2 separate regions of the Homo sapiens genome follow, and region 2 is linked to region 1. Evidence: fine-mapped expression QTL. A gene starts in region 1. The other region holds a variant in brackets. All regions are shown on one strand. Distances are between the middles of the regions. Region 1 holds the start of PITPNM2 (phosphatidylinositol transfer protein membrane associated 2). Region 2 overlaps PITPNM2 (phosphatidylinositol transfer protein membrane associated 2).

Evidence for each region. PIP is the estimated chance that this variant, and not a neighbour inherited with it, causes the effect.
Region 2: its variant is fine-mapped to the expression of PITPNM2 in fibroblasts (GTEx, PIP above 0.99).

Annotation. Positions count from the first base shown.
Region 1 is chr12:123,142,149-123,157,827 of GRCh38, reverse strand. PITPNM2 (phosphatidylinositol transfer protein membrane associated 2) reads left to right here and starts at 6,738. Exons shown (of 26, transcript NM_020845.3): 1 at 6,738-7,075. It overlaps MPHOSPH9 (M-phase phosphoprotein 9), which reads left to right. Exons shown (of 24, transcript NM_022782.4): 24 at 920-3,613. The coding sequence ends at 1,021. RefSeq lists silencers at 6,355-6,554, 6,575-6,834, 6,855-6,994, 7,095-7,184.
Region 2 is chr12:123,117,021-123,132,699 of GRCh38, reverse strand. All of the region lies in intron 1 of PITPNM2 (phosphatidylinositol transfer protein membrane associated 2), which reads left to right. Among named protein-coding and RNA genes, the nearest start is that of PITPNM2, 26 kb to the left of the region's middle. RefSeq lists enhancers at 4,441-5,052, 12,647-13,460, 13,461-14,274. The variant C/T (reference allele first, on the strand shown) is at 8,577.

The DNA.
Region 1 (15,679 bases):
GACACCATTGGAATTAATACTGAATAAATTAACTAAAATGAGGCTGGGTATAGTGGCTTATGCCTATAATCCCAGCACTTTGGGAGGCCGAGGTGGGTGGATCACTTGAGGCCAGGAGTTCGAGACCAGCCTGGGTGACATAGTGAGATCTTGTCTCTGCAAAAAAAAAAATGTTTAAAATCAGCCAGGTGTGGTGGTGCCTGCCTGTAGTTTCAGATACTCGAGAGGCTAAGGTGGAAGGATTGCTTGAGTCCAGGAGTTTGAGGCTGCAGTAAGCTATGATCATGCCATTGCAGTTCAGCTTTGGGTGACAGAGCAAGACCCTGTCTCAACAAAAACACAGAAGTATGTATAATGATATATAGTCCAGGTATTATTTAACAGTAATATTGTTTATTTTAAAATAGCAATTGTTAATTCATTGTGAAATCTATTTTTTTTTTTAAGAAAAGTATCCTTCAGTGTTTTTTTTTTTTCCTTTTTAACTTAGAAATTTTGGTGAGAAGAAAGTTATTTGATCTATGTATGTGTGGGATGCAGCACTGATCAAATGTGTCCATTTCTTCTGGTGAAATGTGTGAAGCACCTCCTAGGCTCCTCTTGTACTGTTCTCACTTCAGCAGAGCCAAAGAATTATCCTCTTCCAGTTGGTTGTATTGCTATTACTAGAATTTCCATATACTCAATGTGTCAAACATATTGAGAATATTTTAAAGTACAGCAGTTATTTGGAATAGTTGAAAAGCTAATTCATATTGTCCAGTTTAAAAGAAATCATAAGATGTTTCGTGTAGAAAGCAAAATAATTGTAATTTTAGTGTTTATACTTGCTCTTTTGCTAAAAGAAAGGTCAGTTTGGTGGTGATTATAGAACTTGGTATAGAATTCTAATTAAACTTTTCCCATTGTTTTCACCTAGGAAGCCTTGGAAGATCGTTTGGAAAGGATTAATCGAGAACTGGGTTCAGTTCGCATGACGCTAAAGAAATTCCATGTTTTGCGCACCTCTGCAAATCTTTGAGATTTGTAGCCATTAAATTTTGAGACATTTTTGTTTGCACTAATGTATAATTATGCAGTCAGAAAAGGCAAACTATTTTGTACTGTTTATAAGCCTTCAAACAGTAGTTTTACAATCATGCTATTCTTACACTTGCTATTTTATACTTCAAATGGCCACATATTTTCAAGATATTTTTGTTATGCTCAGGAATCTCTTGTATATTTTACTATTTAAAAAGCATTATTTTTAAATAGTATCTGTCTCCAATTTATATCAAGAATAAGGAAATATAAACAGAGGAAGCAGCTTGTTTCTAAACAAATAGTGTTATCCTTTTACAATTAACTGCACATCAATTTTATAGACTTGTTCTACATTGTAAATACAATTCAGTTTTTAAAAAATAAAGCTTAATAGCTTCCATAATGATAGACTAGTACATGCTGAATACATAAACAATTACAGTGTACCTTGGATTTCAGTTGTGTTGAGGTTTTTAAAAAATGATAATGCAATTCGTATTTGAAACGTGTCTTAGAGTGAATATCAGAATAGTAATAATGGACTCTTGGAAAGCTTTGAAAACTACATGAATATAACTCATTTTCTTTAAACTTTATTGTCTGTAAGAGAAAAAAGAGAGATTGTAATTCTCTAATTTTATCTTTTCTAAAAAAGTTAAACAATTGGAGAGCCCTCTCTGGAGGGCTCTCAGAGTAGCTCTCTGCCCATTGTTCTGAATTAACTTGTGTCCCACCCTGGACAATAAATGGACAGATAAACCCTTTGAAATACAAGCCACCACCCCGTGAGGGATTAAGAGGGCAGCCTGGTTTTCTTAGTGTGCATGGCTTCAGCTGTCCGTCATAGTTGTCATCTGGATATGTTCACCCCTTTCCACTCCTTCACCCTGGCCAAAAGGAAAATATTTCCACTGTAGGTGCTGTAAGAACACTAGACTTTAGATCATCACAATCTACTGTATTTGTTAATGGACAGGGAGTGTGTCCGGATGGAGCCTGGTGCCTTCCCCTCGGCCTTGCAGAGGGCTCCAGCCCACTGCCTCTGTGGTAGCCGCTGGCTCTCAGAAGTAGCACGTGGGCAGGAGTCTCTCCTCTGATCCAGGAGCATTGGCAGGTTTGTGTTGGGACTGCTGGTTAAGTTGGAGCTGTGTAACTACTTAGTTTTTGGTAGCCAATCAGAACGCAGTGCCCCACATATTCCAGCTCGGTACATGTTGATAAACAGACTCATCCAAACTTTCAAAATGGATTCGTACTAAACATGCTCAGGTTTTAAATTTTGGTTTGCTTTTGAGCTTTTCCTCTTTATGTGGCTCTTAATAATAAGTAGTTAGAATGAACCAAGCCATCCCAGTTATTCCAAGCAGGCTCTCAAATGACCTTTGAGCACCCTTCACCTGGCTGGTCCCCAGGCCAGGGGTCCACAGCCCTGCTCCCTTCTCAGCAAGGAGGGTGGCCTGTCTGACAGTGCAGTTGAACCTTTGCTCCCTACTCTGCAACTTTTGAAGACTTCAGGCTAATCAAAATTACTTATAATTAGAATCAAGTGCCTTTATTCTTGTTTTTTATTTTTATTTTATTTTATTTATTTATTTTTTTAGATGGAGTTTTGCCCTTGTTGCCCAGGCTGGAGTGCAATGGCATGATCTCAGCTCACTGCAACCTCTGCCTCCCGGGTTCAAGCGATTCTCCTGCCTCAGCCTGCTGGGTAGCTGGGATTACAGGCATCTGCCACCACGCCCGGCTAATTTTGTGTGTGTGTATATGTCTATGTGTGTGTGTGTATGTATATATCTTTTTTTTTTTTTTAGTAGAGATGGTGTTTCACCATATTGGCCAGGCTGGTCTCAAACTCCTGAACTCATGTGATCCGCCTGCCTTGGCCCCTCAAAGTGCTGGGATTACAGGCATGAGCCACCACACCCGGCCTATTCTTGGTATTCTTTATTCTTGGTTTTCTAGCCTTTAGAAAAAAAAAATCTAGTCTTGGTAAAGAAAATGTTCATTTTAATCAAGCTCCAGTACAGCTTGTGTCAAGACCTAGTAAGACCACCTTTAATGTGTTCCTGGATATGACATTAAAAACTAACTTGAAAATTGTTAGGATATTTCCTTGTTCCCTACTTTTATTGTAAAATCTACTACATTCTTAAGAATTAAAAAATGCCATTTCAGAAGAGATGATAGTTTTATCTTGCCAAGGAATTATCTTCTTAGTAGCCTATATTGGCTTATTCCAAAAAAGGCGTTAACCTCCATCAAAACATCTTCTGCGCCTCTCTCTCAGCATATGCTTTGATATTTGAAGTGTGTAATAGATTGGAGCTATCAGTCACTTATTTCTAAAAAATGTATTCTTTTTTCTTCATAGCTGTGAAGAGGGATACCAAGGAAAGTTCTTTCTGCTGTCTTTCTCTTCGGTAATGCTTATCTTATGAACACTCAACTGAAAAAACACTCCACCTAAAAGCAGGAAAGATGGCAATTCTAAATAGCAGCTATTATCCCCGGGTATAAACTATTTTTGTTGTTGGCTTGGGGCTTTGCTGCAGGTATTAATAGTTTAAAAAGAAAAAAAAAAAAAAAACCCTAAGCAAATCTGCCACCTCTGGGAAGTGCCTTTTAAAATGCAAATAGAAAGTGAACTCTCCCCTGATGCCTGGATCTGCCCCCTTCCTTTCCCTTGCTAAGCCTCTGTTTGCAGGAGCTACTCCTGAGGTATGGAAATGGTCTTTGCAACTGAAGGACTTTTCCAACTGAAGCAACAGATGTAGCTAAAGTGGCCGTGCTAGGGTTGTGCAGAGCTGGGCTCAGGGGACAAGAAAGGAGAGACTTGGAGCCAGAGAGACCTGGGTCACATCCTGGCACAGGCCTGCCTTTCTCAGCTATAAGATGAAATAAGAAAACTCCTTTCATTAAGGGAGATTTTGTAAAGTGCCTGGTGCTTAGTAAGTGCTCAAGAAATATTATATTTCAGATTCATTGAGTTAAGTAGGTTTTTGAGGTAGCATCCTTTTTTTTTTTTTTTTTTTTTTTTGAGATGGAGTCTCTAGTTCTGTTGCCCAGGCTGGAGTGCAGTGGTGTGATACTGGCTCACTGCAACCTGTCTCCTGGGTTCAAGCTATTCTCCTGCCTCAGCCTCCCGTGTAGGTGGGATTACAGGTGCATACCACGCCTGGTTAATTTTTGTATTTTCGGTAGAGACGGGGTTCTCACCATGTTGGCCATCCTGGTCTTGAACTTCTGACCCCAAATGATCTGCCTGCCTTGGCCTCCCATAGTGTTGGGATTACAGGCGTGAGCCACTGCGCCCAGCCTTGAGGTAGCATACTTTCTGAAATAAAAAAGTAGATTATGTCCGAAGCAGTTGACCTAAAAACTGCCTTGGACTGACATTTGTTAGGTGGTCTAAGATGTTCTCTTCACGCTTTGCAAAAAAATGAGCTTTTTTGGAGTTTAAATTAAGCATCCCTCTGGTGTGTTTGGTTTTTTAGCCACCAAAAATTTAACAAATTTGATAACCTGTCACGTGTAAGTTCAGAAAGCACTTTGGTCTTAATTGGTGACTTGGGGGTTATTTGGTATAAATATAGGTTGTTTTTCTAAAAATTATTGCCAGTATCCTCCAAATAATTGCCCCTTCAAATGTTTCATCTAAAGGTGACAGCTTGTGGGCAGAACCATGCACAGGAAGTGCCTGCCAGTGGGTGTTAGGAGATGTAGGTGGAGTCTGTGATAGCCAACCAAAAGCTATCCCCTTCTCGCCCAGAAAAGCCACGTGCTTTGCTGGACGCTACTTGAAATCTGAACTCTGCACCTACATATGTAGTAAAATTAGACACTTTTGTCACTTTAATTTTTAGATTATCTCAAGTTTTCACTAGATTTCAATGTGCCACTTGTGCTATGAGTCTTTAAGAAGCTTTAAAAAATAAATGCACACCTGTAGCCTTTTACCATTCAGACAGGTAGATTATATTTACCTGTCATGAGGGACCATGTATGGTTGACAGTTGCAGGTTTGATTAAATCCACTATATTGCACAAATTTTGCTGGAAATAATTTCCTGCCCTGCCAAGAGCTCTATGGTAGTTTGATAATAAACTACTACCCCAGTATTCTTAGGAACTGTGTTACTAAGTCTTTTCTGCCTGATTTGTACTTTATTTCCATAGACCCCTCAGATATGTGAGGAATCAAGCCATAAATGTGCATTTGCTGGACATTATGTACCATGTCATCTCTATGACTACAGATTTCAAGGATAATTTTTACATCTAACAATTTCACTGTAACAGTGACCGATAATGTGAGAAATGTGCTTTTTACAGTGCTGCTGGTGGGTAGACAAGTGCTTGCTGCAGTTGTTTCTGAATCTAGCCAGATGCTGGAGTCGTGAAGCTGTAAGCTCCGCGGGAGCAGGGACCATCTCTCTTTCTTGCACTACAGGCACTCAATAAATACTTGTGGCTGTGAACTGGCGTGTGGCCTTTGTGTGTTTATTTCTGCTAGCTGGCTGCAGGAGCGGGTTGTTGGTGATTTTAAGTCCCAGGCATAGAGAAGTCCTTGAGTTATGGGTTAAGGGGCGTCCATCCAGGAGCACAGTTCCCGTTGGGACTCTGTGGGCTCCGCAGATCTTTCTGGATGGATCCTAGGGCACCTCTTGGTGGAGGGAAGGAGCTGAAGCGTTCTAGGTGATGGTGGTACGCCTTGGTCCTCCTCTGCGTGGTCATGGTCAGGGGCACCTGGAGGCGAGTCGGGAACGATGGCCTTCCTGGCCCGTTCAGTTGGGTTCTGCCGTGACCCCAGGAGGTGAGCAGCTGTCAGGGGCTCGGCCTCCCCGGCTTCATCTGGAGTCATCTAGGCCGCCTTAATTTTAGCTTGTCCTCTCTCCTCCAGGGGAGCACCGCCGTCTCCTCAGCCTTATAAGGTGACAAGTAGGGATGGGTCACACATCACTAAGTTTTAGGTGTGCTCTCTTTAGTTCCATGACTTCAGATTTTGCCAAACAAGTCCACCCTGGCTCAACCTAACAAACACCTCATGTTTTTAAGGAATGTCACCAGGCGCTCCCCCACCGGGGGCTCTTCCCATTGGAGAGCCCTGTCGTGCCAGATCATCCGGATTAAACTGTTCGTGATCCTCTTCCAGCTACTCCCTGAGGTGGGGACCGGGACGGCTGCGCTCCCGGCTCTGCCGTTCCCTGGGCCGCGGCCCGGGCGTCCTGAGGGGAGAGCGCGGACCCACCGTGTGGCGAGCACCGCGCCCGGGGCTGGGCTTCGGTGAGCTGCCCGCTGCGCTCTGCCCTCCCTGGTTTACCATTTCGCTCCTAAGAAACTTCATTTTTTAAAATGAGGCTGTTTTAAGAGTCACAGTGGCCGCAAGTCGGCCGGTTCCCGCCCCCGAGTGCGCTCGGCTGCTGCGGACGGTGGGCGAGGAGCCCGGGGCGGGGATCCGCGCCGCCGCCCCCGAGTCCAGTCCCGGGCCCTGAGGACACGGGCGAGCCGGGGAGGAGCGGGGTCGCCGCGGCAGGTCTGAGGAACCAGGCGGGCTGCCCGAGTCGGAGAGGTTTCTTCCGGCGGAGGCGGCGGGGCCGGGCCGAGACTCCGCAGGGACGCGCCCCCGCCGCCGCCGCCGCCGCTCCCCCGCGCGGCCTGAGGAGGCGCCGCCGCCACTGAGGGAATGCGAGCCCGGCCCGGCGCGCGCGGGCAGCAGCGGCCGCTGGGGTGCGCGGGGCACCGCGGCGCCGCGGCGTAGAGCTGTCCAGCCGGCCCCGGCCGCCCGCCCGGCGCTTCCTTCTCAGCTCGCGGCCGCCTCAGCGAGAGCCGCCCGCCAGCACGTGCGCCGCCGCCGCCCGCCTGCGACGCTCGGGAGCAATGCCCGCCGGGGCTCTGCCGCTCGCCCGGGGCCAGCAGGCGGCGGGGGCGCGCGGGGCGCAGCCGGCCGGGCCGGGGCCGCGGGGCGGGCGCTCCCCGTGAGGCGGCGTGAGGTGGCGGCGGCCCAGCCGGGGCCCCGAAGAGGACAGAGCCCGCGGCCGCGCCGAGCGGGGTGAGTGCGTCCGGGCGGCCGCTCCGCAGGCCCGCGGTGAGTCCCGCAGTGCCGGGCGCTGGCCGGGGACCTGGGGATCTGGGCGGCGGCTCCCAGAGAGGCCCCGGCCCGCCCGCCCGCCGAGCCTCCAGCCCGCCGGGGGCTGGAGGAGGGAGCGGAGACCCGGGCAGGGAGGAGGGTGTGGCGTACGGGAGCCCCGCTCGGGAGACCGCCCGAGCCTGGCCTCAGTGAGTCGCCGGCCCTGGATCCGTGCCCGAAACGCTGATTTCCGAATTTCCGTCGGTCGCGACCGCGTGGGGGACCCCCGCCAGGGACAAGTGTCATAGCGGTCGGGGGGCAGGCGTGGGCAGTGCCGGTGCCAGGGCGAGGAAGGGGCTATCGGGAGGAAGCGGAGGTGAGCCCCCGGCCCGCCTTCTCTGCTTCCCGCCTCCAGCTGAACGTCCCCAGGCCCGGGCCGTGGCCTCTGCTTGTCGGGGGCCCAGGGTTGGGGTGTGGCCCGTCTCCATCCTCAGTGCCCCCTTCGTGTGGTAATGGGGTGCCGGCTCTGTCTTCTTCCCACCCCGAATCCTTTCTTATCCGTGGCAGGGCTGATCGGGGGGCCTTGGGGAGAGGGAAAGTTCAGTGTCCCCCGCCCCAGTGTGCACTGCCTCCCCGCAAGAAATCCCAAACGGCCACTCCAGGTGAACATAGTGCGCGCGGTGCAAATGTCATTTCAAGGCAAGTCCTCCAGGCTTGTCCCCTTTCCACCGACTTGCTCCTGCAGAGACATCCTGCACTCCTCTCCCTCCCACTGAAGTGTGGGCTGGGTGCCTCTCCAAACACCCCGGCCTACCTGCCTCCCCCACCCAGAGTCGGGATTCTTCAAAGGAGACCTCACTGGAACATCTGTCTTTGTCCACAACCAGCTCTCTCCCCGGCCTCCACCTGGGAGTGACCAGAGCTGCTAGGATAGACCCCCCACTTCTGGAGGGAAGGCAGTAAGTGCTCCCCTTCATCTGAATCTCCCCTAACATCCATCCCCCAGACTCCTCTCTGCTCTGAACTCCCACTGCCTGCTATCTGTATCTCCTGTGTAACTCTTATCACCGTCTGCCTTATTTTATAGTTACTTTTCCATCTGCCTTATCTCCCCTGCTGGACGGTGAGCTCCCGGGCTGGAGTTGATTCATCTCTGGTCTCCTGCCCTGGTCAGTACCCTGCGTGGAGTCAGTGTCTCCGTGGAGCAGAAGGCCCCTCCAACGCTTGCCTCTGGGACCATAGCTTGTCTGATTCCTGGACTGTTGCTGTTAAATTACTTTCCTTCCATGAAGGGACTGTATTCTGTGGTTGGAATGGACTTCCAGCCCTCTCCCACTGCAGAGAGAAACACAATGAGTTAGGAAGGGCTGTTTTTCTTGTAAGGAGTGGCTTGCCAAGTGAACAGGACAGTACATCCTCTGCCCTGAAGATGGCCAGGCAAAGACTCCAGATTCTCTGGGTAGTGAGTGTTGAATGGGCCATTCTCTCTCCTGGTCTTCCCCAGCTGCTCAGGCGTGGGAGGCAGCAGGGGAGAGAAGTGGACTGCGGGAGTCGAGAGACTGGGGTTCCAGGCCTGGCTTTTCCCATAACTTGCTACAGGAGCTTAACTAAGTCACTTGGTTTCTCTTGGTTTTGGTTGCACCTTATGGAATCTGAAAGAATTCCTCTGCGTATCTAAGGCCCCCTGGGATCTGGGTCCTGTCTACCTTTTCTGCCTCCTCTCCTACCATTTCATTCATACCCTAAGCTGCAGTCCTCTCAGGCTACCTAGAGGCTTTCAAAGGCATGGTGCTCCCATGCCCTCCCTCTCCCCAGGTGCCTTCAACTCTTCACTGGTTGAGACCCAGTCTTGGCCTTCGCAGGTGGAATTGGTCCCTCTTCTGATTTTCGAACCACCCTAGTCTGATTTGCTTGCCACACAGAATGGCCCTTATCTGTTTACACGTGCCCCCCACTAGACTGTGAGCTCCTGGGCGGTTAGTGCTGTATCACGTTTCTCTGCATCCCCAATGCTTTGCTGCACAGTAAGGTACTTAGGAAAATAGTGAGAGGGTTGGCCTAGATCACCACTGAGAGCCCTTCTTGTCCAGAGTTGATTGCTTATACATTCTCTGTTATGGGGACCCGTTGCCTTCCTCCGTGTCTAGAGGCCTGTTTTAACACCAAGCAGATAGATGCTCTCCTAACCAGCCCATCTAGTTAAAGTCTTTCCAACTTGGTCTTCGAGAAGACCAGTCATAGAGGATGTGCAGTTATCTGTAGAGATTAGCAGAGGAAACGTCTGGTACTTTGAGATCACTGCCTTGCTGTTTTTGGAAAAAATGCCAGGGCCGTGTGCTCTTTAATGTAAGCGTAGTGGTATTGCTCCAGTGTCTTTGGCCATGGGCAGGAGGAGCCACTGCTTATGACCGCAGAGTCAATCCAAAATGAGCCATTGTACGCCAGTTCTCAACTTCGCTTAGATGAGATCAATCCCTTTGCAGATAGTCACCCTGAAAGCTGCTTAACAGGACTCCCTGCCTCCAAACACAGATGCGGCTAAGTGGTCTTTGCACAGCTTCTCTGTAGGTCATTTGGTTGATGTTTATTAAGCTTTTACTGGTACCCTGGAATGTTATCAAATAGAGCCATGGCAAATCCTCATCTGGTTTACTCTAAAACCATAATCTGAGGCATTTTCCCCTTTCTAAAGGCTTCTTACAGTGACCCATATTAAAATTTTCTTTTAGAATTTAGGGCCAGGCAAACTTTGCCTTCCCGCAGGAAACTAGGTTGCTTTCTCCTTTGATAATGAAAAGGAAAGTGGGGAAGGAAAACACGTTTTGTTTGTATACTATGCACCATGCAGTGTGCTTGGGCCTCCCTGACACACTGTGCAGGGTAGGTTGTATTCTTCCCCTTTTTCCCAGAGAAAGAAGTTAAGACACACAGAGAGGTCAACTAACTTGCCCAAGTTTCCCTGGATTTGCACTCAGTTCTGCTTCTTTGCCACACTATGTGTGGCTCTTTCTATACCACACTGTCTTTCCAACTGATTATGTTTCTCCTCTTCTCCTTGGCTTCCAGGCTGCTCAGCACACAATGTGATATTCTGTCTAGCAACTATATTACCCTCAACATCAGCATATTTATTGCTGCTTTCCTGAACTGTCTCTTTTTCTGTGTGTGTGTTTATGTATAAATCTCTCTATATATATTCTTTATAAAGTCATCACAAAAGGCTTCTGGAAAACTGTATGGATAAGTGAATTAAATATAGTAAGTAACATTGCTAGCTGGGCGTGGTGGTGTGCGCCTGTAGCTGAGATGGGAGGATCCCTTTAGCCTAGGAGTTTCAGGCTGCAGTGAGTTATGATTGTGCCACTGCACTCCAGCCTGGGCAGCAGAGTGAGAAAAGAAAAAATAAATAAAAATAAAAAGGTAACATTGTACCTAACACACTAACTCACAGTGTGGTTAGGGAGATGAGTCCATGGGGAACAAAGGGTATGTGTGATAAGAGTTGTTGAAGGTAGAGTTCAGAGGAGGAGATGCCCTTTCTGGGTAAGGCAGTCAGGGTTGACTTCCTGAAAGAAGTGGGACTTGAAGGGGGCTTGAAGAATGGGTAGTTTTGATAGTCCACAGCAACTGTAAAGGTGTGTAGGACTTAGAGTCTAAAATCTCTGGTCATCACAATGGCCCTGCAGAACAGGTCTTCTGGTGGGAAAGGAGAGAATTGGTCCAGATATTAAAGTGGGGAACCTGGTGATGCCTTTTTCAAATCCTCTGTATCTTTGATGGAGGGTCCCAGAAGACTGGAGCTGGGAGGGCCTGCACCCTGTTGAGGATGAGAGGCAGAGGCTGGCAGAATAGAAGTGATTTGCACAAGACCTCTCTTCTAGCCTGGAACCCAAGTCCCTGATTACCGGTTTAATGCTCTTTTTTAAAAGTGACAGCCCTGTACATGGGTCCTTGTTTCCTGTGAAATGAGTATGGAGCATTGACCTCCTCACGCCCAACCTAGCAACACCAGGACAAACCTCTGCTAAACATTTATGGTCAAAGACACGACGAGTGCTGTTAGGAGGGGCAGGCTGGCATTTGCTTACTCTTTTTTTTTTTTAAACTTTTATTGTATTTTTTAAAAATTATTATTATTTTTAGATGGAATTTCGCTCTTGTTGCCCAGGCTGCAGTGCAATGATGTGATCTTGGCTCACTGCAACCTCTGCCTCCCAGATTCAAGCGATTCTCCTGCCTCAGCCTCCTGGGTAGCTGGGATTACAGGCGCCCACCACCACACCGGGCTAATTTTTGTATTTTTAGTAGAGATGGGTTTTGCCATGTTGGCCAGGCTGGTCTCGAACTCCTGACCTCCAGTGATCCGCCCACCTTGGCCTCCCAAAGTGCTGGTATTACAGACATGAGCCACCACGCCCAGCTGTTAACTTTTAAGTTCAGGGGTACAAGCACAGGTTTGTTGTGTCGGTAGACTTGTGTCATGAGGGCTTGTTATACAGATCATTTCATCACTCAGGTACTAAACCTAGTACCCATTAGTTATTTTTCCTGATCCTCTCCCTCCTCCCACCCTCCACCCTCCAATAAGTCCCAGTGTGTGTTACCCCCCTCTATGTGTCCGTGTGTTCTCACCTTTAGCTCCCACTTATAAGTAAGAACTTGTGGTGTTTGGTTTTCTGTTCTTTCATTAGTTTGCTAAGAATAATGGCCTCCAGTTTCATCCATGTTCCTGCAAAGGACATGATCTCATTCTTTTTTATGACTGTATAGTATTCTATACTATGTGTATATATACCACATTTTCTTTTCCAGTCTACCATTGATGGGGCATTTAGGTTGATTCCATGTCTTTGCTATTGTGAATAGTGCTGCAATGAACATACGTGTGCCTGTATCTTTATGATAGAACGATATTTTTAGTAGAGACGACGTCTTGCTATGTTGCCCAGACTGGTCTGGAACTCCCAGGTTCAAGCAGTCCTCTTGAGGTGTGAGCCATTGTGGCTGGCCAAATTACTTATATTAACAACTGCCCTTGCTAGAGGACACAAAGGAGATTAACCAACAGGCAGGTTTCCGGTAACAGACAAATCAAAAACCCAAGACAACCTTGGAGAGAGAGCATGGAAAAATCAGTTTCACACTCTCCTTGTTGAAGTTCCCCATTCTTCATAAAGCTTTTCCTTGAGTGCCATTGCCTCTGAAGTCCCTTATCTCTATTGTGGAAAGGGGTCTTATTAAGACCTGGCTAGTCAGAAAGATCAGAGGTCATGATCAGGGACGTCAGCGGGAGTCATGGGTCCAGGGAAAAGGCAGAGTGTTATCAGAGCAGCAGCAGGACCCAAGAGACCTCAAGGCTGATTCCAGCCTTGGAGCAGAAGCTGACAGCTCAAACTCCCTATTGGGTGTGGACATGCCAACCTGCAGCCTTAGGAGCACATGAATGTAGGGTGGAATAGCTCTGTCTGAGGAAAGTATATCCTGACTATGCATACATGTATGCATAGTTATTTGATTCATATTGTTGGCCATAGTTAGGTTCTTCTTTTTTTATTTTTTGTGACAGGGTCTCTCTCTGTCTCCCAGGCTGGAGTGCAGTGGTGCAATCATTGCTCACTGCAGCTTCAAACTCCTGGGCCCAATGATCCTCCTGCCTCAGCCTCCTGAGTAGCTGGGACTACAGACTTGTGCACCACGCTGGCTAACATAGTTATGTTCTATAAAGTCCCTCTTCAAACACTGAGTTAGTGAACACTGAACCACTGCTCCTAGGGAAAACACAGGGTTAGGCTCCTTTGAGCCTGCGGGGACAATATTTTCTTTAACCAATCCATATGTAATCTTATTTTATATATGTTTCTGTTAAAAGAGATCGGGCATGGTGGCTCATGCCTATAATCCCAGCACTTTGGGAGGCCGAGGCGGGTGGATTACCTGAGGTCAGGAGTTCGAGACCAGACTGGCCAACATGGTGAAACCCTGTGTCTACTAAAAATACAAAAATTGGCTGGGCACAGTGGCTCATGCCTGTAATCCTAGCACTTTGGGAGGCCGAGGTGGGCAGATAATGAGGTCAAGAGATCGAGACCATCCTGGCCAACATGGTGAAACCCCATCTCTACTAAAAATACAAAAATTAGCTGGGTTTGGTGGTGTCCATCTGTAATCCCAGCTACTCAGGAGGCTAAGGCAGGAGAATTGCTTGAACCCAGGAGGTGGAGGTTGCAGTGAGCCGAGATCGTGCCCCTGCACTCTGGCCTGGCGACAGAGTGAGACTCTGTCTCAAAACAACAACAAAAAAGACACCCTATTTAATATGTATCATTGATTCATTAACATTAAACTCCTGGCCATCAACACTGTGACTCATGTCTGAATGAAGCTTCTCTAACACAAGAGATTTTCTCTGCACATCATAATCATCTTGCACCCAAGAACTAGACTGCACCTCAGCACTGTGATTGGGGGCCATTCCAAACAGCAAAATCACCAACACAAAGCACACAAGTGCCAAAAATGTGGCACTGCACAGACCACAAAAAGGACACGTGTTTCCATTAGGAGAGCTGAGATGGGAAGATAGAGGATGTCCCCTCGTTCAACCTCAGCAGGGAATGTGCCATCAGGCAACTCAAATTTTTTGCCAATTTGCACAAATTTGAAAATGAATTTGAAAGCACCATGAGCATTGATTTTGGGGTTACAGATAAATTTTAGTGACTAGGGTAATTCACAAATATGGAATCCATGGATAGTGAGGATCTGCCACCTTTGGCATCATGTCAGCCCCCACGGTGTATCCAGCCTAGCTCAGGGCACCTCACAATGCTGATGGTACTTAATGGATGAAGACTGGAGCTGCGGGATGAGGCTGTGGGCAGATTCTTGTGTTTGCTTGTCTTAGGTGCTACAGAAAGACAAGCTGTCCTCCCTCAGCCCTGCTGTAGCTTCTTCTAGAAGGGCTGCTGCCAGCAGAATGGTGCCCATCTCTCTCTGCTCAAGTCTACAGGTAGGAGGGACCCTGTACTTTCATGCAGTGGGTTCTGGCGGCAGCCCTGCAATAGACTTGGCCTTTCTTAGGAGCTGAGACCAATCCTTCTCCCAAAGGAATAATCCTCTTACGGAGGTGTTTCAGGCCAAGATGGGGGGTTCCTGGGGCCCCCATGCCTCAAATTGTGGCCTTCTTATGCCTGGGCTCTCTCAGAGGAAGCTTTCCCAAGTCTTTTGCCTGTTGTGTGCCCTCTTAAGAGTTCGTACGTACGTCATACGGATTATTACTGTTTCTCCTCTGCAGAGCTGTTTATTTCCCCTTTTGAGAGGTGGCTCCTGGGGAGGGCCTGAATTTTCTCTTTTGGCAGCTGGGGGGCTTCCCTTCCAAGTCTGACTCACAGGCTGTGCTGTGGAGCAGGGCTGTGCACTTTGCTTCTGTTGTCCTCCTGGGATTAGAATCAGGCCCTTGGGCTTCCCAGCCCCCTAGGGAGGGCTCACTGGGCACCAGTGTCCTGCATGAGGTGGTGAGCCAGTGGGAGAGCTTGTTATGGGTGCTGCTGGCTCCACCCTCTGCTGTCTCTCTAGACAGCCCCTTGGAGGGAGGGATCGAGGGAGGGGGGAGGGGGATAGGGATGGGTGTGTCAGGGTAGAAATAGGTGGCTATTCCCAGCTTTCATCAGTGGCGTGAGGTTGTCTGAGAGGCAGGGCTTCCCCACAGGTGTGGATGCGTGCTTAACACTGGCTTGGCGACGGTGCTCTGGAGAACAGGAGGACATTCTTCCTCTCACACTGAAGGGCCCATTTAAGTGCTTTCCTTGGTACTTTATAACAGTTGACTTTTCACTTGCTTTTTTTTTTTTTTCATAAGAGGGAGAAAAACTCAACATTTTTTGCAATTAGAATTTTTCCCATGTGGGTAATCACACTGGAAAAAAGCATTTAAATCCTTTGAAAACCACACATAAGTGAGGCTCACGGAGCAGGGGGAACATTCAATCAGCAGGGGTGGCCAGACGTGGAGGCACTTCAGCGGGTTATCGTGTAAGGAAACAATTATTTTACATTTATTTTGGGTTTGCTTGTTGCAGCATATTTCAATTAGTTCATCAGTGTTGTGCATCTGACAGGCCAAACGTTTATTGTGGTTGAACCATCTGGGAGGTGGGAGGCCTGCAGCCTTCCCCATGGCAGTCAGGAACTACTAGTTTAAAGGAAATTTGTTTGATGTGTTTAAGAACCCAACACTAAAACACCATTAATAACAAAATCCTCAAGAATTCTGAAAGCACTCTCACCTATTTCGCCATCAGTTGGGCATGCATCACTCGAGACTTCATTCTTCCCCTAAGCGGGACATTTTCCAATACGCTGAAGCAAAGTTTTGAAGTGGCTTACTTAATTGGTCCAGAGCACGATTTGTATTAACCCAGCAAGGAAAATAGCTCACTAATTTATATTTGAGTGTGAAATAGCTTATGCATTTGCTGCTGGGAGTAGCAAGGGATGCATTTAGCGGATTCTTGCCATTAGTATGCAGCTGAGCTCCTGTCCTGTACTGTGATAGAGAGTATTAGTTTGACTTCAGTTCCCAGCCTT
Region 2 (15,679 bases), 25 kb after region 1:
TATCAGGGGTTGGGGAGGGGAGATGGGGAATGAGTGTTTAGTGAGTACAAAGCTTCTGGTTGGGATAATGAAAATGCTCTGGAAGTGGATAGTGGTGGTGGTTGTACAACATTGTGGATGTCCTTGATGCCACTAAATTTTACACTTATAAATTGTCAAAATGGTAAAAAAAAAAAAAGGGAAAGAAAAGAACAAAAGAATGACAACAAACAAAAATTTCAGGCTTGTAGGGCTGTTCATGAATACTGCTGAGAACCTCCAGTGGCTCTCGGGGCTGGACCACACCTGGCCCTGTGTTTATGGAGCCCTGGCTTTCCCAGACACTGGGAGAGGCGACCCCACACCTGTGGCCCAGCTGAGAGCTCCTTGCTCAGCAGTGTACCCGCCATGCTCTTGGGGGAGTGGAGGTGGGTGTTCCTGGCAGTTAACGGCCATGTCTGGTCACTGCGTATGAATGACATCTGTCTCTGCAACGCTTGTGCACCTGACGTTGGGCATGTCCTTATATGGCTCTCGCTTGCTCTCAGTGAGTGGAAAGATAAATACCTTTTCAAAGAGCAGATGCCAACTGCCTGCGGTCCCTGGCATCCACAGCTGCAGAGCGAGTGGGAGACAGTTCTGTCGAGAGGCAGGTGCTTCAGTCCTGGGGGAATCGGGCACTGGGTGTGCTGAGAACCCAACAGGCCTCATGCAGACAGCCTGAATGTGGAGCAGGGTTCTGCCACGGACATGTTGTGGGATCCTGAGCAGGTCACATGCTTTCTCAGAGCTTCTCTTTCCTTCCTGCCTCTGGTTGGTCCTGAGGTTTAAAGGAGAATGTATGTGAAAGGGCCTAGCACAGTTCCTGGCACCTCCCAGAGCTTGACAGGCACTTGGATTCATCCTTGTGTCTGGCACATGTGATGATCCCTTCCAGTAAGCAGTCACAGTTGGCTGGGGGCTGCTTCTTCCATCAGGACCTAGCACAGACACAGGCTAGGAGCTGCTCTGGAAGGGCAGTGGAAGGTGTGGCTGGCTGGCAGGGTGAGGTTCTGTGACTGGGGCAAGAGTAAGGGTGATGTCCTGGAGGGATTCCAGATGGAACCAGACTCTCCCTCTGCCTCCTGGAGCCTCTGCTCCTAGGGCAAGCATGCAGGGGCTTGTGCACTACCATATCTCTGTGTTAATTCCCTAGGGCTGCCATAACAACCCACCACAACTGGATGGCTTAAAACAATGAAAATGTATTCTCTAACAGTACTGGAAGCCACACATCCAAATTTTGGGTTTCGGCAGTTTGGTTGCTTCTAGAGACCGCAACGAGTATCTGTTCCCGGCCTCCCTCCTAGCTGCTGGTGGTTGCAGGCCATTCTTGGCATTCCTTGACTTGAAGACACATAATTCCAACCTCTGCCTAAGTTGTCACATGGTTGTCTCCCTCTGTGTCTATCTGCCTCTGTGACTTTTCTCTTATAAGGACACCAGTCATTGGATTTAGGGCTCACTCTACTCCAGTGCAACCTCACCTTAACTAATGACATCTGCAGTGACCCTATTTCCAAGTAAAGTCACATTCTGAGTTTCTGACAAGGATATGAGTTTTGGGAGGACATTCTTCAACCCATATAATCTCCATATTTGTTGAATGAATGAATGAATGTGAAAGCCATCCTCACATGTCTGCTCAGGTGTATTGATGTAGAATAGAAGGTGGGGATGTCTCTGGTGCCCTAGGCATGTGAGGGTGGGGTGGGGGACAGCACCAGGATCATCCCCTTTTCCTGTCCAAGCCTCTCCTATTTCTGGCCTCTACACCCTAAGCTTAGCACCCTGGCCACCTCCTGACTCAGCCAGTTTTTCAGGTAGAAGCAATTACATTTATTACAGGGAAGGCTGTTCTCACCTTCCTTTCTGCCCAGCATCTCAAAACTCTTTTTTTTTGAGATGGAGTCTCGCTCTGTCACCCAGGCTGGAGTGCAGTGGTGCGATCTCGCCTCATTGCAAGCTCCGCCTCCTGGGTTCACGCCATTCTCCTGCCTCAGCCTCCTAAGTAACTGGGACTACAGGCGCCCGCCACCACGCCCGGCTAATTTTTTGTATTTTTAGTAGAGATGGGGTTTCACCATGTTAGCCAGGATGGTCTTGATCTCCTGACCTCGTGATCCGCCCGCCTCGGCCTCCCAAAGTGCTGGGATTACAGGCGTGATTGCCGGGCCAATCAAAGCTTTCTTTTGTTTCTCTTCCCCTTCCCCTTGGAGCCAAGAAGGACACAAGGATGGCTCGGTGGCCTTGGGCAAATGACCCTGCCCCCAACCTTAGCTTCTGTTTGCAAATGAAGGAGGCAGAGCTGGGTGTTTCCAAAGGTCTTTTGCATCTATAATTATCTCTACTGTTTTACTGCTGAGATAATTGTGGGCCAGGAAAGTGTGCCCTTCCGTCCCACACAAGGCAGGACTGAAATCCATAGGCCCTCATTTCCAGCCTGTCCCCAAATGCTCTGTGCCATCTCCTGGAAGCCCTCTGGGATTAGCATGATTCATATGTGGTTCCCTGGGGTCCTCACTGTGCCCTGTGTGTGACACATTAATTCACAAGTACTACTGGCCTGGGCGACTTATCGAGACCCCATCTCTGCAGAAAATTTTAAAAATTAGCTGGGTATGGTGGTGTGTACCTGTAGTCCCAGCACTTGGGAGGCCAAGGCGGGAGGATCACTTGAGCCCAGGAGTTTGTGGCTGCAGTGAGCTATGATCGTACCACTGCACTCCAGCTTGGGCAACAGAGCAAGACCTCATCTCAAAAAAAAAAAAACGCAAAACAAAATTCACAAGTACTAGCCTGCCATTCAGATGGTATGCAGGAGTGTGCATGTTCATGTGTGTGTGTTGTTTTCCCCGTGTTCCTCTCCCCTCTGTTTCCTCTGTAGGCAAGAACTCTATGCATTTTTCTGTGTCTCTGTGTTCCCCCAGTACAAGTACCCAGCACAGGACTCATTATGCTGGGTTGTGGGCCAGCCTCAGAAACATAAATATTAGGAGATCTACTAAAAGAAAAAAGAGAAAAATATACAAATAAAACAACTACTGTGCTTTCAGTTGATGCCAGAAAAGCATTTGATAAAGTTCACTATCCATTTAATTTTTTTTTTTTCTTGAGACGGAGTCTCTCTGTTGCCCAGGCTGGAGTGCAGTGGCGCAATCTCGGCTCACTGCAAGCTCCGCCTCCCGGGTTCACGCCATTCTTCTGCCTCAGCCTCCTGAGTAGCTGAGACTACAGGCACCCGCCACCATGCCCAGCTAATTTTTTTTGTATTTTTAGTAGAGATGGGGTTTCACCGTGTTAGCCAGGATGGTCTCGATCTCCTGACCTCGTGATCCGCCCGCCTCGGCCTCCCAAAGTGCTGGGATTACAGGCGTGAGCCACCACGCCCGGCCTATCCATTTAATTTTTTTAGAGACAGGACTCCCATGTTGCCCAGGCTGGCCTTGAACTCCTGGGCTTAAGGGATTCCCCTGCCTCAGCCTGCCGAGTAGTTGGGACTACAAGTGTGCGCCACCATGCCTAGCCTCATTACTCCTTTTTTTGAGATTGAGTTTCGCTTTTGTTGCCCAGGCTGGAGTGCAATGGCAGTGATCTTGGTTCACTGCAATCTCTGCCTCCCGGGTTCAAGCAATTCTTCTGCCTCAGCCTCCTGAGTAGCTGTAATTACAGGTGCCCACCACCACACCTGGCTAATTTTTGTATTTTTAGTAAAGACGGGATTTCGCCATGTTGGCCAGACTAATCTTGAACTCCTGACCTCAGGTGATACGCCCTCTTGGCCTCCCAAGTGCTGAGATTACAGGCGTGAGCCCACTGGCCCCAGCCTCATTAATCTTAAAAACGTAGAGACTGAGGGATAGGCAAATATTTCAACATGATAAAGAATATCTCCCATCGGTAGCTACTTTATCTTTTTTTTTTTTTTTTGATATCGAGTCTCACTGTATTGCCCAGGCTGGAGTGCAGTGGCGCGATCTTTGCTCACTGCAACCTCTGTCTCTGGGTTCAAATGATTCTCCTGCCTCAGTCTCCCGAGTAGCTGGGATTACAGACGTGTGCCACTATGGCCAGCTAATTTTTTGTATTTTTAGTAGAGGCGGGGTTTCAACATGTTAGCCAAGATGGTCTCGATCTTCTGACCTTGTGATTTGCCCCCCTCAGCCTCCCAAAGTGCTGAGATTACAGGCATGAGCCACTGCGCCTGCCCCCCCACCTTTTTTTTTTTTTTTTTTTAACTTGAGACGGGGTCTTGCTCTGTCACCCAGGCTGGAGTGCAGTGGCGTGATTTAGCTCACTGCAACCTCCACCTCCTGTGCTCAAGTGATTCTCCCACCTCAGCCTCCTAAGTAGCTGGGACTACAGGTGTGAGCCCGCTTTTTTTTTTTTTTTTTTTTTTTTTTTTTTTTTTTTTTTTGTAGAGATGGGGTTTCGCCATGTTTACTAGGCTGGTCTTGAATGCCTGAGCTTAAGTGATCCCCCTCGGCCTCCCAAAGTGGTAGGATTATAGGCATGAGCAACCGCACTCAGATACTTTATCCTTAATAGTCAAATGCTCTAGTAGCATTTTCCAAAGTATGTTTGAGGAACACAGAATGCTCCTGGGTATTGCATCAAAAAAGCATTCCAGGGCCAAATAACATCTAGGAAGCACTGTTGCTCTAAGACACATTCCTTTTAATGTCTGTTGCAAGACAAGCATGCCTTCTCTCTCTTTAGTACTGTTCTTTATTCTAGATTCAAGCCAATGCAACAGGCTAGGAAAAAGAGGCAGGCTGGGCGCGGTGGCTCATGCCTGTAATCCCAGCACTTTGGGAGGCCAAGGCGGGCGGATCACGAGGTCAGGAGATTGATACCATCCTGGCTAACGCGGTGAAACCCCGTCTCTACTAAAAATACAAAAAATTAGCCAGGCGTGGTGGCGGGCGCCTGTAGTCCCAGCTACTTGGGAGGCTGAGGCAGGAGAATGGCGTGAACCCGGGAGGCAGAGGTTGCCGTGAGCCGAGATCACGCCACTGCACTCCAGCCTGGGCGACAGAGCGAGACTCCGTCTCAAAAAAAAAAAAAAAAAGAAAGAAAAAGAGGCAGGGCATAACTCTCAGATAGGAGGTTGCAAAATGAATGTTTTGAGTGGATACAGCCGTTGTCTTAGGTTTTCAAAGTAGACAAACTCAAAATTAATTAGAATAAGACAGTATGGCAGCCTGTTGCAAAATAAGTAGGCAAACACCATTGTTTTTCTATGCGTCAGTGGAAACCATTGTTGAATTTGATGGGTAGGAGCACCTCTAACACCTGTTTGCTTGGGCATCAACACGCCAGTGACCTTATTTTCTGGTTAGAAACAAGAGTAACACCCGGACAGTTCAGGCAGCTGCCAGCACCTCCTGGGTCCCCTGCGACCTGGACTCCCAGGAAATGGAGGGCAGCGGTGTAAGTGGCGTGATGCAGGGTGTTCAGCATCTCTCAGTGGGGTTATTCTGAGGACTCTTCCAGAATGTTTTGAACACATTTGTGCACCATTAAGTCGTTGTCACAGAGCCTGGAAGTCCATTATTTCAAGCTCAACTCATCCTGGATGATGGATGTGACTTGAGGAGGGATGAACCATTCGTGCATTCTCCAAGGGCAGGGCTCTCAGAAATTCCCTGTAGCTTTGTGGTCCCTTGCCCTGGCATCCCCTAGACCACCATGCTGAGGGCAGTGTTTGGACGAGACCCCAGTGAACAGAGCCTGGTTGTTGGAAGTAAATCTTTTGCTCCTGCTGGAAACCAGAGAACAGACACTGCTTCATCACTGCTGTCATTCATGCAAGCTTCATCACATTTTCCCAGTCATTATCCTGATCTTTCTCAAAGGCAATTCTTGCCTCTCTTTCAATCAACAGAGAACCCTAGAGATAATTCAGTCTTTGAGGGATTGCTGAGTCATTCAGCTGACTGGGGCTACCATGATGAAGCTGAAGTTCCAATGTCATGAATCAGGCTGTTCTCGGAGGCCACGGAAGGGGTGGATGGATGTGTGTCTGCCAGCTGTCCCACAGGCTGAACCCATCATGCTGGCCATACTTCCTAAGTCATCCTCCCTCCTCCCTAGTTCTTTTTCTTTACTCACTCAGTGTGGTTTTGCTACTTTTAATTTTCTGCCTTATTTTAACCATAGTGGTTTGCATGACCACCAGAGGGGTCAGTGTGCAGTTCTCCTAGGACTAAAGCCCTCCAGCTTTGTGACAGCTTTTCGCCTGAAGCTTGGTGGTCTGATCTGCAAGTTGGCCCTCTTCTAAATGGTGGGAGTTGTAGTCAGCTTGCTTGCCAGACTGGATTGTGGAGAATAGTAGGGCAAGAGTGAGAGGTTAATAGGGCAAGAATTCCCAAGCTTACCCAAGGATATGCATCAATCCCTGCAGAACCCTTAGCAGTTATATTCAACTCACTGAAGGGTCTGCTTGGTTTTTAGATCTTCTTTCTGATTCTTTAGGGATATGAGGGTCACAGGATTAAAAGGTAGAGCCTAGGCTGGGCATGGTGGCTCAAGCCTGTAATCCCAGCACTTTGGGAGGCCGAGGCAGGCGGATCACAAGGTCAGAAGATTGAGACCATCCTGGCTAACACAGTGAAACCCTGTCTCTACTAAAAATACAAAAAATTAGCTGGGCGTGGTGGCGGGTGCCTGTAGTCCCAGCTACTCCGGAGGCTGAGACAGGAGAATGGCGTGAACCTGAGAGGCGGAGCTTGCAGTGAGCCGAGATCACGCCACTGCGCTCCAGCCTGGGTGACAGTGCGAGACTCCATCTCAAAAAAAAAAAAAAAAAAAAAAACCCTAATTTTTTTTTTTTTTTTTGAGACAGAGTCTCGCTCTGTCGCCCAGGCTGGAGTACAGTGGAGTAATCTCGGCTCACTGCAACCTCGGCCTCTGGGGTTCAAGCGATTCTCCTGCCTCAGCCTCCTGAGAGCTGGGATTACAGGTGCCTGCCACCACGCCCAGCTAATTTTTGTATTTTTAATAGAGACGGGGTTTCACCTTGTTGGTCAGGCTGGTCTCAAACTCCTGACCTCGTGATCCGCCCCCCTCGGCCTCCCAAAGTGCTGGGATTACAGGCGTGAGCCACAGCGCCTGGCCTGTACCATGCATTTTCTTTGCGTTCTGCTATTCCAAAAGAAATATTAAATATTGGCATTTTAAAACATAAAATAATTAGAATTGAAATTTTAAAAACTCTTGTTAAATCTGTAGCATCAACTTAAATGAACCATCAGTGGTGTGCATCATCCTTTGATATGACTGAGTCTGCTTTTTGTATCCAGATATCAATTATTTATTTGTTTTTGCTTCTACCTAACTTCTTCCTTCTCTAACAATTCAAGACTCACAATTTTCTAGGATTCAAAGAACATTGTTTTTTGAGTGCTTTAGAATCATTTACTCATTCATTCTTTCACTTACTAAAAAACATTTAACATTTGGGAGGTTGAGGTGGGCAGATTGCTTGAGCCCAGGAGTTTGAGACCAACCTGGGCAACATGGCAAGACCTCATCTCTACAAAAAAAATACAAAAATTAGCTGGGCATGGTGACACATGCCTGTAGTCCCAGCTACTTGGGAGGCTGAGGCAGGAGGATCAAGGGAGCCCAAGAGATCAAGGCTGCAGTGAGCTGTGATGTCACCGCTGCACTCCATCTGGACTACAGAGCGAGACTCTGTCTCAAAATAAAAAAAATTTTTTTAACGAAACATTGAAAAGGCTATGCATGATAGTGCACCAGACATTAGCAAGATTCTAAAGATAAATTAGATACATTCCTTATGGAACTTACAAACTCATAGATTACAGTTCAGTAATAAAATATAAAGATCATATATATTTTAAATATTATTTGGGTAAGTAAGTAATGCATTATACTTGGTACCGAAGTGAAAAGCAGCTACAGGCAAACATAAGACTTCTTGCCGGGTTGGGGGATGGGGGAGGGATAGCATTAGGAGATATACCTAATGTAAATGACGAGTTAATGGGTGTAGCACACCAACATGGCACATGTATACATATGTAACAAACCTGCACGTTGTGCATATACCCTAGAACTTAAAGTATAATAATAATAATAAAAAAGACTTCTTGCCACCCCTGTCTTCAATATCTTAGTTTTCCTTCCCAGAGACAGTGATGGTTGCTAGTTTTGTGTGTGTGTCCTCTTTCAGAGAGATTCTCTGTATATATTAATGTATATTACTTTTTAATTTTTTTTTTTGAGATGGAGTCTCGCTCTGTTGCCCAGGTTGGAGTGCAGTGGTGTGATCTTGGCTCACTGCAGCTTCCGTCTCATGGGTTCAAGTGATTCTCCTGCCTCAGTCTCCCAAGTAGCTGGAATTACAGGTGCACACCACCATGCCTGGCTAATATTTTGTATTTTTATTTTATTTTTTGAGACGGAGTCTCACTCTGTCGCCCAGGCTGGACTGCAGTGGCACAATCTCGGGCTCACTGCAACCTCCGCCTCCTGGGTCCAAGCGATTCTCCTGCCTCAGCCTCCCGAGTAGCTGGGGTTACAGGCATCTG[C/T]CACCACGCCAGGCTAATTTTTTTGTATTTTTAGTAGAGATAGGGTTTCACCGTGTTAGCCAGGGTGGTCTCGATCTCCTAACCTCATGATCTGCCCGCGTCGGCCTCCCAAAGTGGTGGGATTACAGGTGTGAGCCACTGTGCCTGGCCACTTTTTAAATTTTAAATTTTAATTTTTTTTTTTTTTTGAGGCAGAATCTTGCTCTGTTGCCCAGGGTAGAGTGCGGTGGTGCGATCTCCACTCACTACAACCTCTGCCTCCTGGGTTCAGGCGATTCTTGTGCCTCAGCCTCCCAAGTAGCTGCGATTACAGGAATGTCCCCCTACACCTGGCTAATTTTTGTATTTTTTAGTAGAGCCGGGGTTTTGTCATGTTGGCTAGACTGATCTCCAACTCCTGGCCTCAATTGATCCACCTGTCTCAGCCTCCCAAAGTGTGGGGATTATAGGCATGAGCCAATGCTCCCGGCCTAAAAATTTAATTTAATTTAATTTTTTTTTGTTTTTTTTGAGAGAGAGAGGGTTTGCTCTGTTACCCAGGCTAGAGAGCAGTGGTGTGATCATAGCTCACTGCAGCCTCAAACTCCTGGGCTCAAGCAGTCCTCCTGCCTCAGCCTCTTGAGTAGCTGGGACTAGAGGCACGTGCAACTGCACCTGGCTAATTTTTTTATTTTTGTAGACATGGAGTCTTGCTATGTTGGCTAGGCTGGTCTCAAACTCCTGGCTTCAAGCAGTCCTCTCACCTCGGCCTCCTAGAGTGTTGGGATTATAGGTGTGATCAACCTTGCCTGGCCTATATTACTTAAAAACAAAGCTAAACACAAATGGCTGCCTATTGTTGTGCATCTGCTTTTTTGACTTCACAATACATAAATCCTGCAGATGGTTCTCTGTTGGCTCATGTAGAGTTGTTCAGTTCTTGTAATGGTGGGCTTAGTATTCTGCTCATGGGTGGACCATCATGTGTTAAACCAGGTCCCTGTTGATGGGGTTTTAGATTGTAAGAGCAGAAGATGGGAAGCAAACAGTGCTGTAGCAGGCATCTCAATAAGTAGGTTTTCATGCAAATATACTCTCATGTCTGTAGAATAAATTTCCAGAAGTAGAATTGCTGGGTCAAGGAGTGTTTTTCTTTTATTTTTGTTAGCAATTGCTAAATTGCTCTCCATAAAGGTAGTACCAATTTACACTCCCACTTACAATGTGTGAGTGCGAGGCAGTGGTTTTCAACCTCAAAACCCCAGGCAAGGAAGAGCTTTTAAGTAAAATAAAAATCTGGAGAAAACTCCTTCTGTGTGAGAGCCTTTTCTACCGCAAAGGGCAGGCTGTAGGGTAGTTCCTGGCATAGCCAGTTAAGACTGTTCATTCCCATTAGCTGCCAGCTTGCACACGACTGAGGGGCTCTTGGGTTTTTGGATTCCTGTAGTCAGGTTGTGGTCTGGAAGATATGTTCCTGGTAAAGGGTGGGGGCAGCAGCTACCTTGCCCCTTCTCTGTCAGCTTGTTTACCACCGAGTATCTGAGAAACACCAGAAGCTAACCTTCAGGGAGGTTATGTTTTTGGGGGAGCTCAGATGTGACCAGGAGGCCTATCAACAGGCTTGCGACTTGGATTTCCCAGATCTGTAAGTTGACGTCATTTCTTTCTTTCTTCTTTTTTTTGGAGACGGAGCCTTGTTCTGTCACCCAGGTTGGAGTGCAATGACACGATCTTGGCTCACTGCAACCTCCGCCTCCCAGGTTCAAGCGATTCTCCTGCCTCAGCCTCCTGAGTAGCTGGGACTACAGGCGTGTGTCACCACGCCCGGCTAATTTTTGTATTTTAGTAGGGACGGGGTTTCACCATGTTGGCCAGGCTGGTCTCGAACTCCCGACCTCAGACGATCTGCCTGCCTTAGCCTCCTAAAGTGCTGGGATTACAGGCATGAGCCACCGCACCAGGCCAATTGACATCATTTCTAAAGAGATTCCCCAGGGAGCTGGGGGCAGGAGGAATGGAGAGTTAGTATTTGATAGGTACAGAGTTCAGTTTGGGAAGATGAAGAAGTTCTGGAGGTAGATGGCAGTGATGATTGTGCACTTAAAAATGGTTGACGTGTTAGATGGGCATGGCGGTGTGTGCCTGTAGTCCCAACTATAATACTTGTGAGGCTGAGGTGGGAGGATCACTTGAGCCTGGGAGGCAGACGTTGCAGTGAGCCAAGATCATGCCACTGTACTCCAGCCTGGGTGACAGAGCGAAACCCTGTTTCAAAAACAAACAAACAAAAGGTTGACATGGGCTGGGCATGGTAGTCCAAGCCTGTAATCTCAGGGACTCAAGAGGCAGAGGCGGGAGGATTGCTTGAGGCCAGGAGTTAGAGACCACCCTGGACAACATAGACCTTTCCTCTACTAAAAAAAAATTATGTTAAAGTCAGATGTAGTGGTGCGTGCCTGTAGTCCCACCTACTCAGGAGGCTGAGGCAGGAGGTTTGTTTGAGCCAGGAATTCAAGGTTGCAATGAGCTGTAATCATGCCCCTGCACTCCAGCCTGGATGACAGAGTGAGACCCTGTCTCAAAAAACAAATAAAATAAAATAAAAATAAAAAAGTTATTATGGTAATTGTTATGTTATGCGTATTTAACCACAAACACAAAAAAAGGTATAATTCACTGTAGCTATCATCTCATGAACAAAAGGAACACTAAGAAGTAGGAAAGATCTAAGAATAAAGAAACTAAGTGGAGCTTTTTGATTTTTGTTTGTTTGTTTTGACACACGGTCTTGTTCTGTTGCCCAGGCTGGAGGGCATGATCATGTCCTACTGCAGCCTCAAACTCCTGAGTTCAAGAGATCCTTCTATCTCGGCCTCGTAAAGTGTTGGGATCGCAGGTGTGTGCCACCATACCCCACCAAACTGGAGCTCTTTGAACAGCTTGGCCCATTAGCCATGTTCTCATTTCTCCTTGAACCGGTGAGAGCTTGGCCAGGCCTGGCGCTGACCTGCTCACTGGGGTTTGGGAGTCAGCAGAGAGGCCTCTGAGGGCTGGAGCCAGAGTCAGCTCCCCAGAGAAGGAGCCTGGGCTGGGCCTGCAGCAGCTGTGTGTTCTGAGAAGATTCTATTCTCTAACTTGGGAGACCTGGGGCTGTCTCATTTCTCTGTGTTTAAACAAGAAGTGTGTCTCTGGCCTGCTGCCGGATGTTTTGGAGGCTGGTTCAAGTGAAGCACCCAGTGATCTGGGTGTGGTCTTCGTTATGCTTTTCCATTTTCCCCAGGGGCTCAGATAACTTTTGCAAAAAGAGCAGGTGAGCAGAGCAGATGTTTGTTTAGAATGACATGGTGGCTCAGAGTAGGTGCTCAGAGAGGTTGTCCCTGCTGGGGCTGTGGTGTCTGACCAGCAGGGAGGAGCTTTGCAGAGGTATTGTGTGGCCTCTGCACAGCCATCCTGCCCTAAGGTGCTAGGTGTTGTACCAGCAAAGGTCATCATCCCAGACTGTAATTACTCTCAGGAAACATGTGCCACTACATCTCAGTGCCTTTAGAGGATGTGGATGTGAGCTCACTCTCACTGGCCAGGGTGTGACTGACAGTGAATTAGCTTTATGCCACATCTGGCTGAGGGCTCTGACTCTTCCATGATCCACTCTCCATATGAGAGGTCTGTGGTCATCACTCTACTTGCAGAGAGAAAGGCACTAGTCCTATAGAAGACCAAGGAACTCCTATGGCACTCTTGACAAGGAGGCTGCTGCCCTGGGCCAGTGCCTCCCAGCCAACCTGTGACTATTAGACCAGAATGCTGCTTAGACACCTGTTGTCTTACCCCTCCTTTCACAGCCAAAACACAGATTCCAGGAGGTGAGGGGCCGTCGAAGCTCACAGCCAGTTGGAGTCAAAACTGGCTCTTGAACCCAGTCCGTGAACTCAGGTCCTGAATGCTCTGGTTGGGGCATTTTAAATCTTAGAGGGTGTTAGTTATAAGGTGACCTTAAATCTGCGGGTTCATATTTGACAAAACCAAAGCCAGGCCTTTGCTGCAGGTGTGCCCTCAGAAAGCCCTTGTCGGCTATGCAGCAAAACCCCGGCAGGCCATACAGGCACCTGTGATGAGTTTCCCTTTGACTCACTGGTTGTCAAGTAGGTAACACGACTTCACCATACTCACAGGGCAGTATGGTTGCTGAGCTGACACAGCCTCCTCACGTGGGTGGCAAGCGTATGCTTCCCATTAAGAAAATTGCTACTTTTGAACGGGCTCCCAACAGAACTTTTTCTTGCTTACTAAAATTAAGAAAATAATAATAAAACAAGCCACTCAACACCCCAAACTCAAAAAAAAAAAAAGAAAGAAAAGAAAAAGAAGAAATATTTAGCATTGACCCAGAAAAAAAGCCTCTGTATTCAGCCTGATATTAGTACTCATGGAGCCACATGGATGGAACGAAGAAATTTTCATTTAGGTGTGATTAAGATCACATCCTCAGCCAGGCGCGGTGGCTCACGCCTGTAATCCCAGCACTTTGGGAGGCCGAGGCGGGCGGATCACGAGGTCAGGAGATCAAGACCATCCTGGCCAACACGGTGAAACCCTGTCTCTACTAAAAAATACAAAAAATTAGCCAGGCGTGGTGGCGGGTGCCTGTAGTCCCAGCTATTTGGGAGGCTGAGGCAGGAGAATGTTGTGAAGCTGGGAGGCGGAGCTTGCAGTGAGCCAAGATGGTTCCACTGCACTCCAGCCTGGGTGACAGAGCAAGACTCTGTCTCAAAAAAAAAAAAAAAAAAAATCACCATCCTCTATGCTTCTAGATAGAGCACAGCCTTTAGTTGTGCTACCTAATCCTTGTCCCTACCTCCCGAGCATGACAAAGCTTAGGCAGAAGCTGCTTCAAACACAAATGAACTGTGCTGAATTTTCCTCTGAGCATTCTCAGCAGTCCCAGGAGATCATTGGAGAAATCCCCCAGGTGGCCACAGAATCAGAGCTGTCTTGCTGCGTTAAGTCTTGTTGGATCACTTGAGTCCTGAAGAGGCCCTTGGTAAAGGGAATAGTTAGGCTATTGTCATCAACGCTGAGCCCAGATACATCTGGGAGTGGGAGCTGGAGATCTCTGCCCCTGACCTGCAGGTGACTAAAGCTGACAGTGGACACAGGCCACACGGACACAGCCGAGTGACACTGTTTCACGTCCCTGCAGCCTGGCCTCCATCAGCACTAAGGCACAGTATTTGCGGAAGGGCCATGTGTTCGACAATACTTACCATGTCCAGTAGCCAGATGGTCTAAACAACCCATCAGTGGTATGGTATGTAAATATTTTCCATCATTATCATGGTGCTGCCGTGTTGACATTAACGAGGATGAAGAATTACTCTGAGGAGCTCTCCGTTAAGAGCCAGTCAGGCCGCAGGCGGGGCTGCAAAGCTGTCCGTACACCCTGGAGGCTGACAGCTTTCCAGGCTAGCTTGGTTTCCTCTTGCTTCCTCCTCCCAGGCACAAATTCCCTCACACACTGGCCCCGTGGACATTCCCCTCAGAACTCTTCCCAAGCACAATGTCTGTTTCTCATCATGAACTAATGTTTTCCACTATTGGGAAGAGCTTTGTGACCCAGCATATTTCCCTCTTTGCTTTGCCTACCAGGAAGCACACAGCTAAGATTTTACTCATTTGCTTTTAGATTGTTCTCAATTTAGAGCCTTGATAGAGATTTTCTCCCTCCTGTTTGGTTGCTTTCTTTCTTTGCTCATCTCATGTTTGGTGGGAAAATGTGGTGAGCCTATGTTGTAAGGTTTTTGGAAGCAGGCAGTATGGATAGAGCTTGAGCAGGTTCCCATCATGATCGCAGAGTACAGAACTGGTCTGTATCCAATCTCCCTGAACTGTCACCTAGACTGGTAGTTCTAAGAAGGCTAAGATTAGACCTCAGCCTAATTCTCCTGTGTATCTCCTACATATCTGACAATTAGTATCAATTTGGTGAATGTATTAGTTAAGTAATGCTAACTGCTAGACAATTCTCTAGTCTCAGTGGCTTATCACAATAAAGGCTTATCCCCACTCTTGTCTTAGTTGAATTGCATGCTCTGTGAGTGGCCTCCATGTGGTGAATTGGGGACCCAGGATCCTTTCACACTGTGGCTCTCCCATCCCTTGGGGCTCCCCTGGAGTTCTCCAGTGAATCTGTGCAGTCAGCTGGCTGGTAAGCAGAGAAAGAGGGAGCATAGGAGATTGCATGGGGCATTCTGGGGGCCAGGCTTTGAAGTGGTGGACCTCCCCTACTCATATAACTAGTCCCGTAGCCTCACCTAGAGTCCAGGGGGCTAAACATATGATTTAGGGAGAGGAAATTGGACCATGCCAGAGTCTGTCATAGTGAGATATTGAACAATGAATGAACAAATCCATGAAGGGCACAGAGAGCAGAGCAGGGCTCCAGGGGCACACGTCTGAGGAGCCCAGTGAGCACTTCTGTCTGCCTTGCAAACCTAGATGCAAGTCATTGGACTTGATGCAGGGCTTTGGATTACAGGTCAGTATTCCCTTCTGTCCAAATCATAGGATTGTAGAATGTTGGAGCTGAACTGAGAACCCTTTCAGAGGTCATGAAGCCCAGCCTCCTCACTCTACAGATGGGGAAACAGAGGCCCAGTGAGCCGAGCTGACTTACCCAGAGTCAGCAGCCAGAACTCTGGTCTCAATCCCATGCCAATGATCACTTCACTGCACTCAGGGAATCCCATCCATATCTCTGTCCACAGTGTGCAAACCCCTGCTCTGCACAGATAGAGAGTCGTGTAATTAAGTGACAGCTTGAGTTGATCATCTGATGGCCAGCTTACTCCGTAGGATCACTGGAGAAATTCCCCAGCCTCACGACCGCTGTTTGAAACTCAGCACCGGCTTCATTTCAGCATTCACTCCATTGGGATATTGGGAGTGGAAGACTACTCTCTTCCTAAGACTCATTTAAGCACTAACGTCTCTCAGCAACTCTCATATGTGAGGATACAAAAGGTCTTCATGAGTCTTATGATGGAAGTAGAACTTCCTGCAAACCCGCTAGAGAGCTTGGCCACCATCAGTTACCTATTGCTGCTTAACAGAGTACGTCCAAACAT